2 separate regions of the Homo sapiens genome follow, and region 2 is linked to region 1. The links come from fine-mapping of genetic effects on gene expression. A gene starts in region 1. The other region holds a variant in brackets. All regions are shown on one strand. Distances are from middle to middle.

Region 1 (8,334 bases):
AGGTTGAATCAAATTTCTGAATATGAACTTTGGACCCCCAAAGCTGAGAAACTGAGCCTGTGAGCTGCTGATGTCCCCATAGCACAGTTACCTTAATGGGGACACATAAGGATGGCAAAATCTTTATCTTGTCTTTTACCTGTGAGCATAGCCACAGACTCACCAATGGGTGATTGCCTTGCTATAAAGTCTCTAAATTTGAGTGGTAACATTATAGCTAAACTGTTAATCTCACTTGTAGCGTAAATAGCTGTGAGGTACCCTACCCCAACTGCAAAGATTTAAAACCATGAAAAATCACTGCTGGTGAGAAGACAAATTGGTGCCAGCCTTTAGGAGAATAATGACACACGTTTCCAGAGCAATGCACATTCTCATATCATTTGTCCCAGTAATTCCATCTCTGAGAGCTTGGATACAGAAAAACGAAATCAAAGTATGAAGATGTTTATTGCAGCATTGTTTATAAGGAAAAACAAGAAACAATCTGAGTGTTCAAGAGTAAAGAAATGTCTAGACAAACAATAGAATATACACTTGATGGAAAATAGCATAGTGATTTAAAATACTATTCACAAAGAAAATGAAATTTTCACAACATAATATACATATAATGTTAAATGCACAAAGCCGAATAAAAATTCTACGATAGGAACACAACTATGTAAGCAAACCAAAAAAAGACTGAAAAGGTCGTCACCAGGAGTGATTGTTTGCCTGGCTGGTACTTGGGTAATGAAAAAGACATTAAACATGAAAAGATCTCTCTAGCTCTCTACTTATTAGCAATGGCTTACATTACATTGAATACTATTTTTTTTCTGTTCACTTTTTCATATCTTTCTCTGGCATTTTGGTAATGCATAAATTACCCATAAAGAAATGCAGGTGTTTTGCTGAAAACGCATCAAATGAAACCTCTAGACAACATACCAAGAAAGCATCTTTAAAATATTTTTATTATGCTCAACATCATTTTTCTGTATAAAACAATACACATTTATTTGGAAAATACAGGAAAAGTGTAAAATCACACAACTGTGGTGAGGTAAAGAAAAATTTCGTTTAATTCTTCTACTCAGATCTAAGTGTTGATATCTTACTATGAAGGAAACGGATTTTTTTTTTTGAGATGGAGTTTGACTCTTGTCACCCAGGCTGGAGTGCAATGGCACGATCTTGGCTCATTGCAACCTCTGCCTCCCAGGTTCAAGCGATTCTCCTGCCTCAGCCTCCCAAGTAGCTAGGATTACAGGCATTCAACACCATACCCAGCTAATTTTTGTATTTTTAGTAGAGATGGGATTTCACCATGTTGGCCAGGCTGGTCTGGAACTCCTGACCTCAGGCGATCCACATGCCTTGGCCTCCCAGAATACTGGAATTATAGGTGTGAGCCACCGTGCCTGCCCAGGAAACGGTTTTTTGATAGGAGGGACTGGTATGTTTATCTTAAACAAATGCATATAATTCTGATATAAAACCCCGATGTAACATTTTACCCTTCAAGAAAGCCAAATCATTCATAGACAGTGTGGTGTAGGTTTAAGGGCAATCAAGAGTTGTTGAGCTTGATCTATGTGAAGCTCATAGGGTGAGTTGTTGAGTTCGATCTATGTGGAATGGGGAGAGTAGGGGCTGGTGAGGGCTCTGTAGTGGACCTGCCCTCCTTGACTTACTAATTGAAAGCAACTTCTGCAGCTGTTATTGTTGTTGAGGTTGTATTCCACCAGCAGGTTGGAGACACAGGCAAAATATAACTAGATTTCAGCCACATGTTTGGACATGGTGCCAGAAGACTAGTTCATGCTGATTCCTGCATTTCTCCCTGTTATTTGAGGACAGGGGCCATCCTCTATTCAACTCTGTATCTCCAGCAAAGCACTGAACATAGCAGATGCTCAATTAACATATGTTGAAGTAAACTAAAGGCCTGGGTTCAAATTCCTACCCTATCATGTATTAGCTAGATGCCCCCATCCACTTCTTTGGCTTCAACCCCGTCTTTGATCTAGAGACTTTCAAATCTCAATCATTGACCTTGTCTTTCCAAAACGCCAGACCCAACTAACTCCTTGCCTCCTGGACTTTTCTACCTTGATGTTCCATAAGTAGCTCAAAATCAGTATGTCCCCCCTGAACTCATCACTATCTCTCCTCAAACTCCTACTCTTCCTCCTGTGAACCCTAGCTTCGTTAATGGTGTCACCATCTCTCTGGGTACCCAAGCAAGAGACTAAGTGGGTCTCTCTGCTCTTTTTCATTTATTTACTCATAAGATCCTTCCTGCTGACTCTGACTCAAAAATGTTGAAACCTCATCTCCATTCCCACAGCTGCTTCTGTTCAGACCCCCATCATATGTTATCTGGATTATTACATCAATCTCCTAACTGGTTTCTCTGCCTCTGATCTTCCTGTTTCAAAACATCTTCTTTGGTCATAACCAAAGGTGTCTATCTGAACTGAGGCATAATTATATCACTTCCTTTCTTTAAAACATCCCAAGGCTCCTCATTGTCTTAAGAATCCAAATTCCTGACAACTCAGAGGGTCTGTCACAATCTGGCTCCAACAGCCCTTTCTGGTCTCATCTCATATAAAACTGACCCCTCTTATCCCAAATAGGATGGTCTGCCCTAGCTGTTTAAAAATTTCCCCCCTCCCCCAGATGGAACCATAGCATCTCTCTTTGCATAGAATGGTACAGAATCTTCTCTCCCATCTCCTTATTGCTGCTGCTCCTTCCCCTGGGAGCCTCCCCTGTGTATTGGAAGTCTAGCCATGTGTCACCTCCTTTGAGCACCCTTCTTGGGGCAGAACCACTTATTTCTCATAGTGCTTAGTCCATACATCTATGGTAGCACTTATTGGATCCTTGTGTGTGTGTGTGTGTGACCTCAGAGCTTAAGATGGTCCCTGGTGCATAGTGATGACTCTGTCAATGTTTGGGACAAGAGTGAAGTTCTAAATAGGGCACAATGGATTTAACTGCTGGCACCAAATCCCTCCCCTGTGAAAACAGCCCCAGCCTCTGAGTCCTGTCTACAGTCTCAGCCCACCCCAGACCCATTCTCTTTGCAGGGATCCTCAAACCTCCCTTTGCAAGAAGATCTTCTGGATGCTTTTTTCACAGGTAGAGCATCCTTCCTGCGCCACAAAAGGTTGAGTGGGTAGTGATCAATTCATGCTCAGTGAATTAGATTTGTTCAGAGAGGCCCAGAGATGGGGTAATGATCCCATGGGTAAAAGATCCATGTCTGGAGAAAGGATAGGTGTGCACCTAGAAGAAGAGAAGAGAGTGGGGCTCATTTATATTCTGAGATTTAAATGAGATGTGGCGGGAGGACTCTTCATCCCATCTGATTAAACCTACACAAGAGTTCATGTGGGGGCACACAAAGACTAACTAAGGATATTCTCTACGTTCTACTCAACTTTTGGGATGTAGCTTAGAATCCTAAAACACAGTACTACAGAAAGCCTCGAAACTAGGCTAGATTCTCCTCCCATCCCATCCAGGCTTCTCCGCAGCAGAAATAGGTGTTTAATTAAATGGAATAATATAGTTCTCCTTTCATACCTCAGGAGATCAATGAGCCCATAGCTAGCACTCACATATTTATAGACTGAAGAAATGAACATATTCTGGGGCTCAAGGAGATCACCACCTACTGGGGAGGCAGGGGAGAAGGGAGGATGCTAGGACCCTGCTATCCCCACTACACGGCACATTGCAGTCTAGGGTTCACCGTGCAGTAGAAAGGAGAAGCAAAGCGATGAAACCCTCGTGGGATTCGTGAAGGCTTTATGGAAAAGCGATGTGATGATCAGTGGGATTTCTAGGGGGAAGGGATCCAGGGCCAGCAACCAGCTGAAGGAAAGGCTGAAAGGAGGGAAATGCAGGGTACGATCTGGATGGAGTTAAAATGGCAGAAAACTGAGGCTGAGTGAGAGGTCTGGTACTGAGGTGGGGATCGGAGTTCCAGCACTGGCCTTTGACAGCCTCTGGGTCCCAGGTGGAATGGGTAGGGCCAGAGCCCTTGCCTTCTTCTCCAATCAACACCAGGGGTGTGGTGTCTTAGGCAAGGATGGGTGCTGTGCGCCCTGCCGCCCACCATAGGCAGGGCCTGGGAACCCGGGGAGGACTCTCCCCACCTCCAGCCTCCGGCAGTGTCCGCCAGGCAGGGCGGGGGCCAGCGCTGGTGTTGAGTAGTGGACCCCAGGGGGATGACTAAGCCTTGCCTGCGAGCAGACTCGAGCATGCCAAGTTATGAGACGATGATAACTCTGCCCCGAGCCTCTGGGGTCGTGGCCGTGGGCCGGCAGGGGCGAGGCGGGCGTCCAGAGGGCGGATAAAAGGGGCCGCGCTGCGCCGGGGCCGCTTTCTCCGCGCGGTGCCTGCAGGGCTCCCAGCGAGTGGCAGCTTGGGAGGGGCCGCCCGGGCGGTCAGACTGGCACCTGAGCGGCCACCGCGTCCCGGCCAGGCGGGCAGACCGACCCCCTCCTCACCTCGCGCGCGGCTGACGCAGGCAGGGCGCCCGGCCCCTCCTGGGGACCATCAGGTGCCGGCTGGGGGCTGTAGGCACCGGACGGAAGCAGGCGGTGTGAGGACCGACGACGCGGGCATGGCGGGGGCGGCCTGCGAGCCGGTGGCCAGGCCGAGCCTGACCTCCATCTCGTCTGGGGAGCTTCGCAGCCTGTGGACCTGCGACTGCGAGCTGGCCCTGCTGCCGCTGGCTCAGCTGCTGCGCCTGCAGCCCGGTGCCTTCCAGCTGAGCGGCGACCAGCTCGTGGTGGCCAGGCCCGGGGAGCCGGCGGCGGCGCGGGGGGGCTTCAACGTCTTCGGTGACGGCCTCGTGCGCCTCGACGGGCAGCTCTACCGCCTCAGCAGCTACATCAAGAGGTGGGTGGCCTCGCCGTGCGCCCTGGCCCGTCGCCTGGTACCCGCAGACGCCTCCACCCGGCTGCGGTCTCTGGGAGCCTGGGCTGTCCTCGCTGCCTGCGACACCGCGTGGCCCCTTGCTCCGTGCGCTTCTAGACTTTCCTTCTGCTTCTATCACCCGGAGCCTGCACGCTCGCCCTGGTTCTTCTGCCTCTTGCACTGACATTTTGCAGCTGCTGCTTGAAGCCGCCCAGAAGGGCATCAGGACTGGGGGCGAGGGGGAGGGCAGGGGCCCCCCAGCCAGAGCTCATGAGTGGCAGATGCTTCTCCCATTCTGGCTCCTTAACTGGGTCAGATGAGCTCAAATTGGGAGCACACCCTTTAGGGGCTGTCTGCAGCTCTGCAAGACTCACATCCTGGCTTTGGAGCATGGGTGGCGGTGAGGAGCAGGGGGCATGCACCATTCTGAGCACTGCCAGCCCTCTCCAGTGAGGAGACCGAGTGGAGAAGCATGCAAAAGCTCAAAGTTTCCCATCTCTGGCCTCACTTCGTGTTTCAAAAGTAAACAAATAAACCGCAGCTGAGAAGGGAACAAAGCCCCTGGAAGTCCAGCCCGGGGCCATGTGGGCTGTGGAAGGCACAGATAAGTTCTGGGGAAATAAGTGCGAAACCTGAGGGCCTTAATGGGAAGGAGGCCCCCAGGATGCTTGACTGTTGTGGCCAGAGTGCCCCCAAGCTCTTCTTGGCAGACCGGCAGGATGTGGCCCAGCCATCTGAAGCAGGCTTTGGTGCCACAGGGTAAAGGAGGGCACTTCAGGCCTGATTCCACATGGCCTCAGGCCTCCAGAGTTCACTCTTGGCAAGGGCCTGGAGTGCAAAGACCTGTTATATTTGTGCTGAGAGAGCCAAGTGCCTGAAGAGGCAAGCATGGTCTAGAGTTTGACTCAGAAATGAATAAGATAGCCAGCTTTTGAGACACAGCGCCTTTGCTACTGGGAAAGACAGCGTGCTGTGGCACCCTGTGGGTAGGAGGGAGCCAAGAGAGGGAAGCAAACAAAATGAGATATTGAACGTGCAGTCTTCAAAACTCTTGGAGAAAAAACCTTGCTTTTCCAAAGATAGTGAGGGCTCTGAATGCCTGAAGAACCATTCCCCAGCAAGAATTTCTCCCTTTCTTAGTGAAATGAAAATTCCAATTCCAAACCATAAGCGGAGGACTGTGGGAGGAACTGAGTCAGATGTGTGCAGATTTAAAAAGAAGATACCCATTGTATTTGAGAGCAGGGTATGAAAAATAAAAATGTCCAGAATGAACGAAGCCGTAAGTTAGGGTTTTGACAGAACCAGTTCTCCTAATTGTAGCAAACAGTGCTGCAGAATCTGAAATGATTTTGAAGTCTGTCATCTAACTTTTGCTTTGAACACCTCCTACACAAAAGAAAATTAAACAACAGTGATTCCCCTGACAGCTTTGAATCTAGAATAAACAACTGGGCCACAGTGACCAGGTAACACAGACCAGGGTGCAAATACAAAACAACAAATAATAGGCTATCATTGTATAAGCAATACTGTGAGGGCTTCTTTTGTACCTGGGAAATAGCAAGGAGCCTCTGAAAATAATTTGGGTGATGGAAGGAGCTATCTATTGTCCTCAGGCAGGGAAGGAGGCTTTTATAACTGAGTGTGCAGTCCTGAAGGATGGCCAGGAGGGAATGTGGTCTAAATGGAGACAGCCTTCCAGGCAGAGGGGGAGGACTGGACTGTGGGCAGCAGTGAGAGGTTCTGCCCTCGGGAATCAGGAGGTGGGAGGTATGCCGAAGCCAGAACTCAGATATCTAAAGCTTCGTTCCTCTGAGCTGCCAAATTTGCCAGTTGTTTTTGGCTTTAGAGATAGCATAAAACCTCCCTCCCTCCCCTCCCTCCCTCCCCACTTCCTTCCCTCTCTCCCTCCCTCCCTCCCTTCCTTCCTTCCTTCTTTTTGAAAAATAAGCTCTGGCCAGTTTTATTAAAGATTTGCATGATTTATTTTCACCAGTCTGTTCTGGCATGCTTCCAAAGATCTCAGGGCTGGGTGCAGTGCCTCATGCCTGTAATCCCAGCACTTTGGGAGGCTGAGGTGGGCGGATTGCTTGAGTCCAGGACTTCGAGGCCAGCTTGGGCAACATAGTGAGACCTCCTGTCTACAAAAATTAGCTGGGCATAGTGACATGCACCTGTGGTCCCAGCTGCTCAGGAGGCCGAGGTGGGAGGTGGATGGCTTGAATCTTGGAGGTGGAGCTTGCAGTGAGCCGAGATGGTGCCACTGCACTCCAGCCTAGGCAACACAGTGAGACCCTGTCTCAAAAAAAAAAAAAAAAAAAAAAAATCTCAGCATTCCCTGGATCAGTGACACCAGGGTGCACTTGCTATGGTATTTTCCACATGCTGTGCCCAATTTAATGTTATTACTGCTGGAGTGGTAGATGGCAGTTTTGAGAGTATGCACCTTAGTTCTGTATTTCAGATTTCCTCGAGGCCAGGCAGTTGGTGGGGATGACCGGTTTCACTTTGCCTTGTCTATCATCTTCAGAGCCGGATTGCCCCAGCTTGTATTTTTGACCCTTAATGGGTTGGAGCCTAGAGTGGATGGACTCCAGTGACTTTTCGTCTTCTTTGCGGCCACCATATTCTGGCCTTGGATGTGGGATGGCCTCTAACCAAAAGCAGCCACCAAGATGGCCAGGGATCCCAAAAGGCAAAATGGTTCTTAATCATTTTGGACCATAGAACTTTTGAGAATTCTACGTAGATTCCCCAGAAATGTAAATATATACCCAATTTTTGCTGACCATCCAGGATGTTCATGAGATACTTGGACCCAGGTTAAGAATCCTTGCTCTATTAATTAATTAGTTCTTTTTAACTCAACAAATATTTTTGGCATATGGGATAAGCCCCTGGTGTAATTAGAATTTCTTTCTGGGACCTCATAAGTATGTACTGTGGCTTTCATGAGGCCCTTTTCCAAGGAACCCCGAAAGGCTAAGAGCCACCGACCTTGACTTTCAGGTTATTCACTCGCTAAGAGAGCAACAGGATGATTTTAGCAGCCCTACTTAGGTTCATTTTCTAATACTTTAACATTTTTTCTAAGTACATACCTACTAAGTAACCTAAAGAAATCCAGCATAGTGGGAAGGTTTAGTGATGACCACCAGCTCTAAAGCTCCTTCAAAAACCTACTTTAAAAATATTTGTCCTATTTTGTAGGATTTATGGCAAGATCTTTATTTTTATTATTTTCTTTCAAGATCAGGATTTTCGCCCATGTTGTAAACACAATGTGCTCAGGACACGAGATGTGGGTAATGGTCATTCAGGGAGCCATTCATTCAATACTTAAAAGTCAAAATTACCATTAACTACGACACACACACAAACACACACACACACACACACACACATGTT
Region 2 (8,334 bases), 25 kb before region 1:
GTGATGCTCCTAATAGAGAGTAAATGAATATAATCAAGTTTTCCCTACTTTGGAGTACAAATTTTAAGCTTTTATATTAAAACCTATTTATGCCTAGTGTTCCATTATTGGAACACTAAGCATGTGGGAGTTATTTATGTCTTACTGCTCAAGGTCATCACCAGGGTCTGATTTTTCACACTCAAAAAATTGCAACCTCAGGCATAAATGGGTTAAAATGTACTATGACGTATCTCCAACTTCATCCTGGAATGGTTTTATCTGACAGGTTTAATAGTGGCAATGAGAATAAGTCTGGCTGGGCGCGGTGGCTCACGCCTGTAATCCCAGCACTTTGGGAGGCCGAGGCGGGTGGATCACGAGGTCAGGAGATGGAGACCATCCTGGCTAACACGGTGAAACCCCGTCTCTACTAAAAATACAAAAAATTAGCCGGGTATAGTGGTGGGCACCTGTAGTCCCAGCTACTCGGGAGGCTGAGGCAGGAGAATGGCGTGAGCCCGGGAGGTGGAGCTTGCAGTGAGCAGAGATTGTGCCACTGCCCTCCAGCCTGGGCGACAGAGTGAGACTCTGTCTCAAAAAAAAAAAAAAAAAAAAGAAGGATAAGTCTGACTTTGCCAGCAGGAAATTTTAAAAACAACCTCTCCCTGTGTATGTAACTCACATGGTATATACCTTATAATTCATGTGGCTGGCCATATTTTATTTATGAAATATTTGGAATCTGGAATCCAAAATCAGGGAAGGTGCAGATTCTTTGTTCCCTATTCATAGTGGAAATTAGTTCAAGTTGCTTTATTTTTAGCATTGCCATTCCACATTATTTTAAAGATAAGACTTTTGGGGTGACACTTTATTATTATTTTTATGTGTTTATTCATTTTTCCAATAATCAAGAAACAGAAAAATCAGAAGAAAGCCAGAGAAAAAGTGAGTTTCCTGTCTGCAGTGCTCAAAGCATACCACACACATTAGGAAATGACAGAAATGCACAAGCTAGACATCCAGCCAATCAAAACACATTGCCCAGAACGGTCAAGTTTAAATGGGATCATGCATTCCAAGTCTTGAAGTTTAAGACACATTAACATTAAGCCTTTCAACTTCACATAGTAATACAATCCAGCAACAACACAGCATCAATCAACAAAATCAGACTAAAAGAAAGAGCTTGTGCTTCCCCCAAGGGAGCCCTGTAGACAGATTGCACCTCAAAGTTGAAAGGACAGTTAAGCCTTCTCCTTGTTGCTTTCTCTGTTCTGGGACCACTTTGCAGTTTTCCTTCTTTCTGAATATGTTTTATCTCAGGTACAAATAGGTTGGCTCTTCTGCAAAAGACTAGCCAACTAGTCTACCACAGAGTTAGTTAAGTCTCATTATTTCGAATAAATTTGTGTTTTATTTTTAAACTCATTGACAACTCTATGTGTTTTTAATTAACTTCTTTGACTTCAGTTGTTTGAAATCCAAAAGTGGGCTTGGATAAAAATTAGCTTTATCAGTTTATGCCAGTGTGTGTTTAACCAGGTTTTTTCTTTACTATACATTAACTCCAGATAGATGGGGACTATTTGTTCATCAAAGGCTGGCTTTTCCTGCATATCTCTGTGGCAGACACTAGTTGGGTTACCTTGTGCAAAACGGCTCACACCAAATAGGGTTGTGGGAAGAACTGACACTTCCAAAACCAACTATGGTTGCAATTGTAAACAAGTGTCAAAGAGCCCGCATTCTTTATAAAGCTTAGCTAGGCATTGAGATGTAGGCTTTTAAAATATGACTTATTTGTGGGTTTGTTTTGGTTTTTTGTTTGTTGGTTTTGAGACAGGTTCTCACTCTGTTGCCTGGGCTGGAGTGCAGTGGCACTATCACGGCTCACTCTAGCCTCAACCTGTTGGGCTGAAGTAATCCTCCCACTTCAGTCTCCTGAGTAGCTAGGACTACAGTTGTGTGCCACCACACCCAGCTAATTATGTTTTGTTTTTTGTTTTTGTAGAGATGGGGTTTCTCCATGTTGCCCAGACTGTTCTGGAATTCCTGGGCGCAGGTGCTCCTCCTGCCTCAGCCTCCCAAAGTGTTGGGATTACAGGTGTCAGCCACCATGCCTGGCCACAATATGACTTCTTAAGCACCGTTAATACACCTAAGTGTTGGGCCCTATCTTTCAATTTGCCAGATACAGGGTGGTCATATAATTTATTGTCCATGCAAGGATCTTGAGAATGGTTAGGGTTGCTAACCCGATGGGTTGCCAGGACATCTGGTGTAAACCTGGACATCCATATATATGGGACTCTTCTGCCCCATGTGCCACTACCAAGTGTTTTTGAAGGTGTGTTGAAAATATTGCTAAATTTCACCTGCTAATTGTTCTGATGAATCTATGAATTTTTTTTCATCCTGGAATCATCCATGACTTCCTACTTGATCCATCAGATATCAGTATCTCACTATTTCTGGACCCCAGGACACTTTTCCACCACGAAGTTCTTTTCCTGCTTACAGTGCTACTGTCTGTTTCCCATCTCTGTTCGTGGAGATCCTAGTGATTCTTTGGGACCTAACTCAGCAGGATCTCTTCCAACACTTTAGCTTCCACAGGGCTGTATTTGTATCCTCCTTAGGGCACTCACCTCTTTCGGTTTTGTTATATTTTTATGTGTTGTATCATTTTTCATTACTTAACTGAAAGAAGGAACCAACCACAAAGCTGCACCTCTACATTACACATTGAATGTGAGCCCCTTGTTTTAGCTACTTCTTACGTGTTTGGTGAATTGTTTTTAAAAGTGTGGTAGGAAATAAACATCCAAGAAGGTAGAAAGCCTTGTTGTATTTGGCAAGGAACAGGCCGATGCTACTGCTGGATTTGAATGCCAGCTTCTCCAATTAAGAGCTGTGCAATCTTGTGCAAGTCACTTAACCTCTTGGCGGCCTGTAAAATGGGGATGATAATAGTACCTACCTCCTAAGATACTGAGTATTTAATGTTGCCAGGCACTGTCCTCACAGAACAGTGCTTGGCAAACAGTGCCTGGCAAGACTAAATACTCAATATCTCAGCTATTTTTATTGTTCAGACTTCATTTCCCTATTTTTTGAGGTTTTATTCACATTTTTGAATTGTATTGCAAATAAAAGAAAACCAAGAGCTATCGGCATGTGTAATGGAGGGAGGCCTAATGGCCACCTCCGTCAGGCACACCAGCAATATCCACTGAGAACTAATGCCTTGGTGACCCAAAGGTCACTTGATGGGACAGAATAAAATGTCCTCTTGACTTGAAGAGCCAACCAGGCCAACCCCAACCTCTCAACTTGAAATCAGAGAGTTGAGGTGCTGGTTCTCTGCACATCTGTAGAATAGGGACCATAAGAGTACCTACCTCATGGGCTTACAGTAAAGATGTAATGAGATCATCTATGTAAAGCACTGATCATAGTTTCTAGTACCTGCTCTACATTTGCTGTTGTTCACAGCATCTGTCCTGGAACATGAGTTGATTGTTGAGAGAGGTGTGGTGGGTGTTCTGGGGAAGATATCCTCATATTTCCTCCAGCCATCAGGAACCTCATGGCTAGCTCCATCAGGAGAAGCTCAGCAAGAGAGTGAGAATGCAAGCCTCTCGTTTTTTTATTAGAAATGGTGATTAGGAGACTGCCTTCCCCTCTCTGCGAGCATCCAGTGCAGGAGGGCCAATATCTACAGCTGCAAGGATGATCAGCTTGATGCTGAGGCAAGAGTTATGATTAGCAACAGAAGTGGCAAATTAAGTTCACTGACTAGCAGGCTGGGAAGAGCCAAGAAATCTGTATTAATCACCAAGGACAGAACATGAGCTCTTTGAGACTCTGCAGGGAGAAAAGAGGCTGAAAGTACCC[A/G]CAGTACTTCTGGAAGGGGGCTCAGAACCAGTGAGTTTTCATTAGCATGGCTATTGCATCCTACAACCCTGGAGTCACTCACCCAGACTATAGTGACCTAAAGAACTCAGGGTTACACACAGCACAGAGCCACTGTCCCAGGGAAAGAAGTTTCTTTGCTTCCAGGCGCCTCTGTACCTAACTGTTACTGTTCTTTTCCCAGGGTCCCCAAAGAAGAGAATTCCACCAACTTTTCTTGGCATTCTCTGCCAATAATTAGCAATTTTTTCTTTATGTTTATCCTTATTAATGCCTATTCCTGTTCAGCTGTGCTCATGGAAAGATAGCCAGTGTGTTTTGCACTTTCCCAGGCAAGCACATCTCAGAGTCCAAATGGCACAGTTGCCTTCAGTTAATTTTCACTTAGATCTTAACCTTCTGAGTTTATTTCCACTTGAACTCTGGGTATTAAAGTAGAAATAATGCTTTGTGACCTTTAAGCGGGACACCAGCTGCTTCTCCACCCTTTCCCCTGTGGTTTAGTGACCCACACAGTCCAGTTCTGCAATAGCCTTGTTTCTGGAGTTCTAACCTCCTTCCCAGCAGGGAATGACTAATGCTTAAAGCCACGCATTACACGAAGGTTTACCAGGCAGAGCAAATAAATGGTCATCGGAGACATGCTTTCAAACAGAGATCTCTGTTCTTGGCATGAAGGTTAAGGTTAGTGAAAAAAAGTCCCACCTCTGCCCCTTTCTGTTCAGTTCCACCCCTTTATCTTCCCAAGGACATGATGAGAAAGATTTTAAAAGTGATCACAGTGGTTTATCTTCATGACATGGGCAGATTTCCATGAGTCCTGTGATTCAGTGACACTCTGAGGAACCCATGACTGTGGGGTGGGCTTGGAACAAACTCACTGTTGGCAGAAGCTGTCCACTTCCCCCATTTTTTGCTCTGGCAAAAATAGATTTCAATGGCAGCTTAGGAAGGGGCCGCAGTGGGGAAGAGGTTGTGGTAAGAGAACATTCTTTCCCATTCTCCAAATCTTCCAAACCAAGCTTTGCTCCATGGGACCACTTCACCCAGAAGTCTGGGCTGGAGCTCAGGCTCTGACACTGTCATGGCTCCCAGCTTGATGGATGGGAGGAGGCAGGGAGCTGGGTTTCCAGCCAGGAACTAAGGGAACTCTACGCTCCTACAGTCCCTTTACTTACTGGGATGGTGTTCACCGCCTCTGCCCACTGAGCCTGCCAAAACAATCTGTCACAGCCAAGCCCAATCACTCCCCATTCCCTGCTCCAAAAAAGAAGAAACCTTGCTGCAGCTTCATAGACATTTGGTCAATCTGCAATAATAAAAAATAGAGGTAGTGGGGCATGGGGAGAGGGAAAGAAGAGAGGCTGGGGGCTGGTGATGGGACAAGTTGAGTTTGGAGCTGCAGAGTGGGAAACTATGGGATGGGCTGGGAATACACAGGGGAGGATGCCTCCTTAAAGTAGGCTTCGGACTATGTATATGGATCCCCTTTGGGCTTTGGGATAATTAGTGAAAGATCAGAGTTATCTTGAAATTCCTTTTGTTTACAAGACTGCATGTTTGGCTGCTCTATGGGGGTCCTGGCTGTGTAAAGGTCACACGTGTAAGTGGATTATGGGCTCATTCATCTCCACAGGGCAAGCTGGAGAAGTTTTTCTTGACTCACTGGAAACAGAAGTAAAAGGCTGAGGAAGGCATTGCGGGGTGGTTGTATCACACAGGCGATGGTGAAAAGTGGAGGTGATGTGGTAGGGAGGAAGACATCTGTGTTTGCTATTGACTTTCTATTTCTTCTGCCAGGGAGCCTGGCATCCGGGTCTCCTGTTGCCCAGCAGTGGAGCAGTCACTTCATTTCACTGTGTCTCACAGTTGTCTCTGCTGTTGGCAACTGGATGTGGGAGGGAACAGTGAAGAGACTACTAAAGTTTAATGTCCTTTTTATGACCAACTTTTGTTGCTGGCACCTTCCTCTTGGAAAAAATACACTGATTTATGACTGAACCATCCCTACACACGGAAATCAAATCATTCTTTCTGTCTCTTAGCTTATTTTTGTTTAGAGGAGCGGATGGCTTCCATAGGCTGTTCAGAAAATGGCTGGGACAAATCGGAGTAAAAAAACTTAAAAGTTTTTATTTCTGTCTCTTTCTCCCCACAGAGGAGTTTGAAATTCTTGCTTCAGGCCATATGGAGTGGATATTCCTTCCAGAAGGAAATTACAGACCACTCTCTGTTTCTACTCAACTGCTTTTCACTCCGTAAGTGGACTCTTTGAAGCAGCCTTTTATTTACCTCAGATTCTGACATGAATAATTGTTTAATTGCCTTTCAGCCTACACAAGATAAGGAACCATGTCTCAAAAATTGTATAATTCTCTTAACTAAACAATAGCCAAGCCATCCGGAGTAGTTTTCAAAGGAAAAAAGAATTCCTCACATATGTTAAGCATTTTATTCTTTTCAAAATGCATTGCTCTGTATTATTTCGCTAAATTGGATAACGTATACGAAAGCACTGTGTAAATTACATCACATAACAAAAAAGTGAAATGTTATAACAATGATCGATTTGATTTTCCATGTGGGAAACTGAGGCTTTACGGGAGTAAGTTACAATCCCAAATCACAGCAGTTAAACGGAGCCCAGACAGTGGTCTGTCTTCTACTTCCGGATGTGCTCTCTCCTCTGCAGAGGATGCTTCACCTCTTGGGGCCTTCCCCAGCAGAGGCCCAGGATCACCTGCAAAAGGCTTCCCCAAGGGTGGGGCCAGAAGCAGGGCTGCAGATATGTGTCCTGAACCTCCCATGGACCCTGCTGGCTCCCTTCAAAGGCTTCGGGCATAGCGACTTGCCTTTCCGTCTTGTTCAGTCGTCACCAGTCAGCCGTCTGCAGACTTCTCTCCCTCACGTTGTGGCAGAGGAGTTGTACATTCTCTAGATTTTAAAAATATATAAGTTACTTTTTCTTTAAAATAAAAATTGTCTCTGAAATAAGCTCCCAATACATTTGCGTATTTTTAAAACGTGTTAGCAAATTCTCATAATAGGATTTGCGTTTGTTAGAAGAGGACTGGGGCAGAAATCACAGAGGAATGAAGCACCTGCCACTCCCTCACCCCTCAGTGGGTGCAGCCCACCCAGGGAGGCAGCAGGATACAAGGTGGAGGAGTACCCCGATACCCAAGAACCCCATGCAAAGGATAGAGCAGCCTGAGAGCAGGGGCAGGATACCAGAGGGAAGGGCTCAGGAGGGTTTCAAATGTATCAAAGGACACAATCAACAGAGTGAAGGGGCAACCCAAGGAGAATCAAAGAAAATATTTGCAAATCATATATCTGATAAGGGATTGATATCCAGAATATATAAAGAACTCCTGGCCAAGCACAGTGGCTCATGCTTGTAATTCCAACACTTTGGGAGGCAGAGATGGGAGGATTGCTTGAAGCAAGGAGTTCAAGACCAGCCTGGGAAACAAAGTAGGACTCCATCTCTACAAAAAGAAAAAAAATAATTAGCTGGATGTGGTAGTGCACACCTGTAGTCCCCACTACTTGGGAGGCTGAGGTCCGGATTGCTTGAGACCAGGAGCCCGGAGGCTGCGGTGAGCTCTGATCTCACCACTGTACTCCAGCTGAGCTGATACAGTGAGACCCCGTCTCTAAAAAAAAAAAATTAAATATTTAAAAATAAGAACTCCTGCAACTCAACAACAACAAAGTCAGTCCAAATAAAAAATGGGCAAAGGACTTGAATAGACATTTGTCCAAAGATAATATGTATACAAATGGTCAATAAGCATATGAAAAGATGCTCAGCATCACTAATCAATCATTAGGAAAATGCAAATCAAAATCACAATGAGATACCACTTCACACTCATTAGGAAGGCTACTAATGAAAAAAAAAAATAGAAAATAACAAGTGTTGGATATTGAGAAACTGGAAGCCGGATGCATTGGGAATGGGCAGGAATGTAAAATGGTGCAGCCACTATGGAAAACAATATGGTGGTGCCTCAACAAATTAAACATAGAATTACCATATGTTTCAGCAATTCCAAAGAAACATCATTCTCTGGGGTAAACACCTGAGGTTCGCCATCTCATGCCAAGGATATCGAGTATGCAGACACACAGGAAGTGGGTTTAGGAGCAGAGGTTTAATAGGCAAAAGAAAGAGAAAAGAAAACAGCTCTCTCTTCTGCGAGAGAGAGAAGGGCACCTGAGTGGGAGTTCCGGCTGGTCGTGGAGTGCACAGGGTTTTATAGAAAGGCTTGAGGAGGCGGTGTCTGATTTACATAGGGCCCAAAGATTGGTTGGACCTAGTGTGATGTTTACATAGCTTGAGGGAAGCTGGCTTCCCCACCCTAATCTTATGCAAATGGGCTATTTGCCTGACGAGCTCCATGTTGTCTGCCCCCTGCTGCACATGTG

Which allele goes with the higher level. Positions count from the first base shown, and alleles are read on the strand shown. Sizes are in standard deviations (SD) of each study's normalised expression.
With allele G in place of A in region 2, the expression in subcutaneous fat of the gene that starts at base 4,383 in region 1 is higher (moderate effect, 0.41 SD a copy in FUSION).

Evidence for each region.
Region 2: its variant is fine-mapped to the expression of MEDAG in subcutaneous fat (FUSION, PIP 0.95).

The regions. Positions count from the first base shown.
Region 1 is chr13:30,901,889-30,910,222 of GRCh38, forward strand. It overlaps MEDAG (mesenteric estrogen dependent adipogenesis), which reads left to right and starts at 4,383. Exons shown (of 5, transcript NM_032849.4): 1 at 4,383-4,905. The coding sequence starts at 4,628. All of the region lies in intron 2 of TEX26-AS1 (TEX26 antisense RNA 1), which reads right to left. RefSeq lists an enhancer at 4,984-5,485.
Region 2 is chr13:30,876,502-30,884,835 of GRCh38, forward strand. It overlaps LINC00545 (long intergenic non-protein coding RNA 545), which reads left to right and starts at 6,061. Exons shown (of 2, transcript NR_103813.1): 1 at 6,061-6,158; 2 at 6,593-6,894. TEX26-AS1 (TEX26 antisense RNA 1) reads right to left here. Exons shown (of 4, transcript NR_038287.1): 3 at 7,437-7,559; 4 at 6,334-6,834. The variant A/G (reference allele first, on the strand shown) is at 3,883.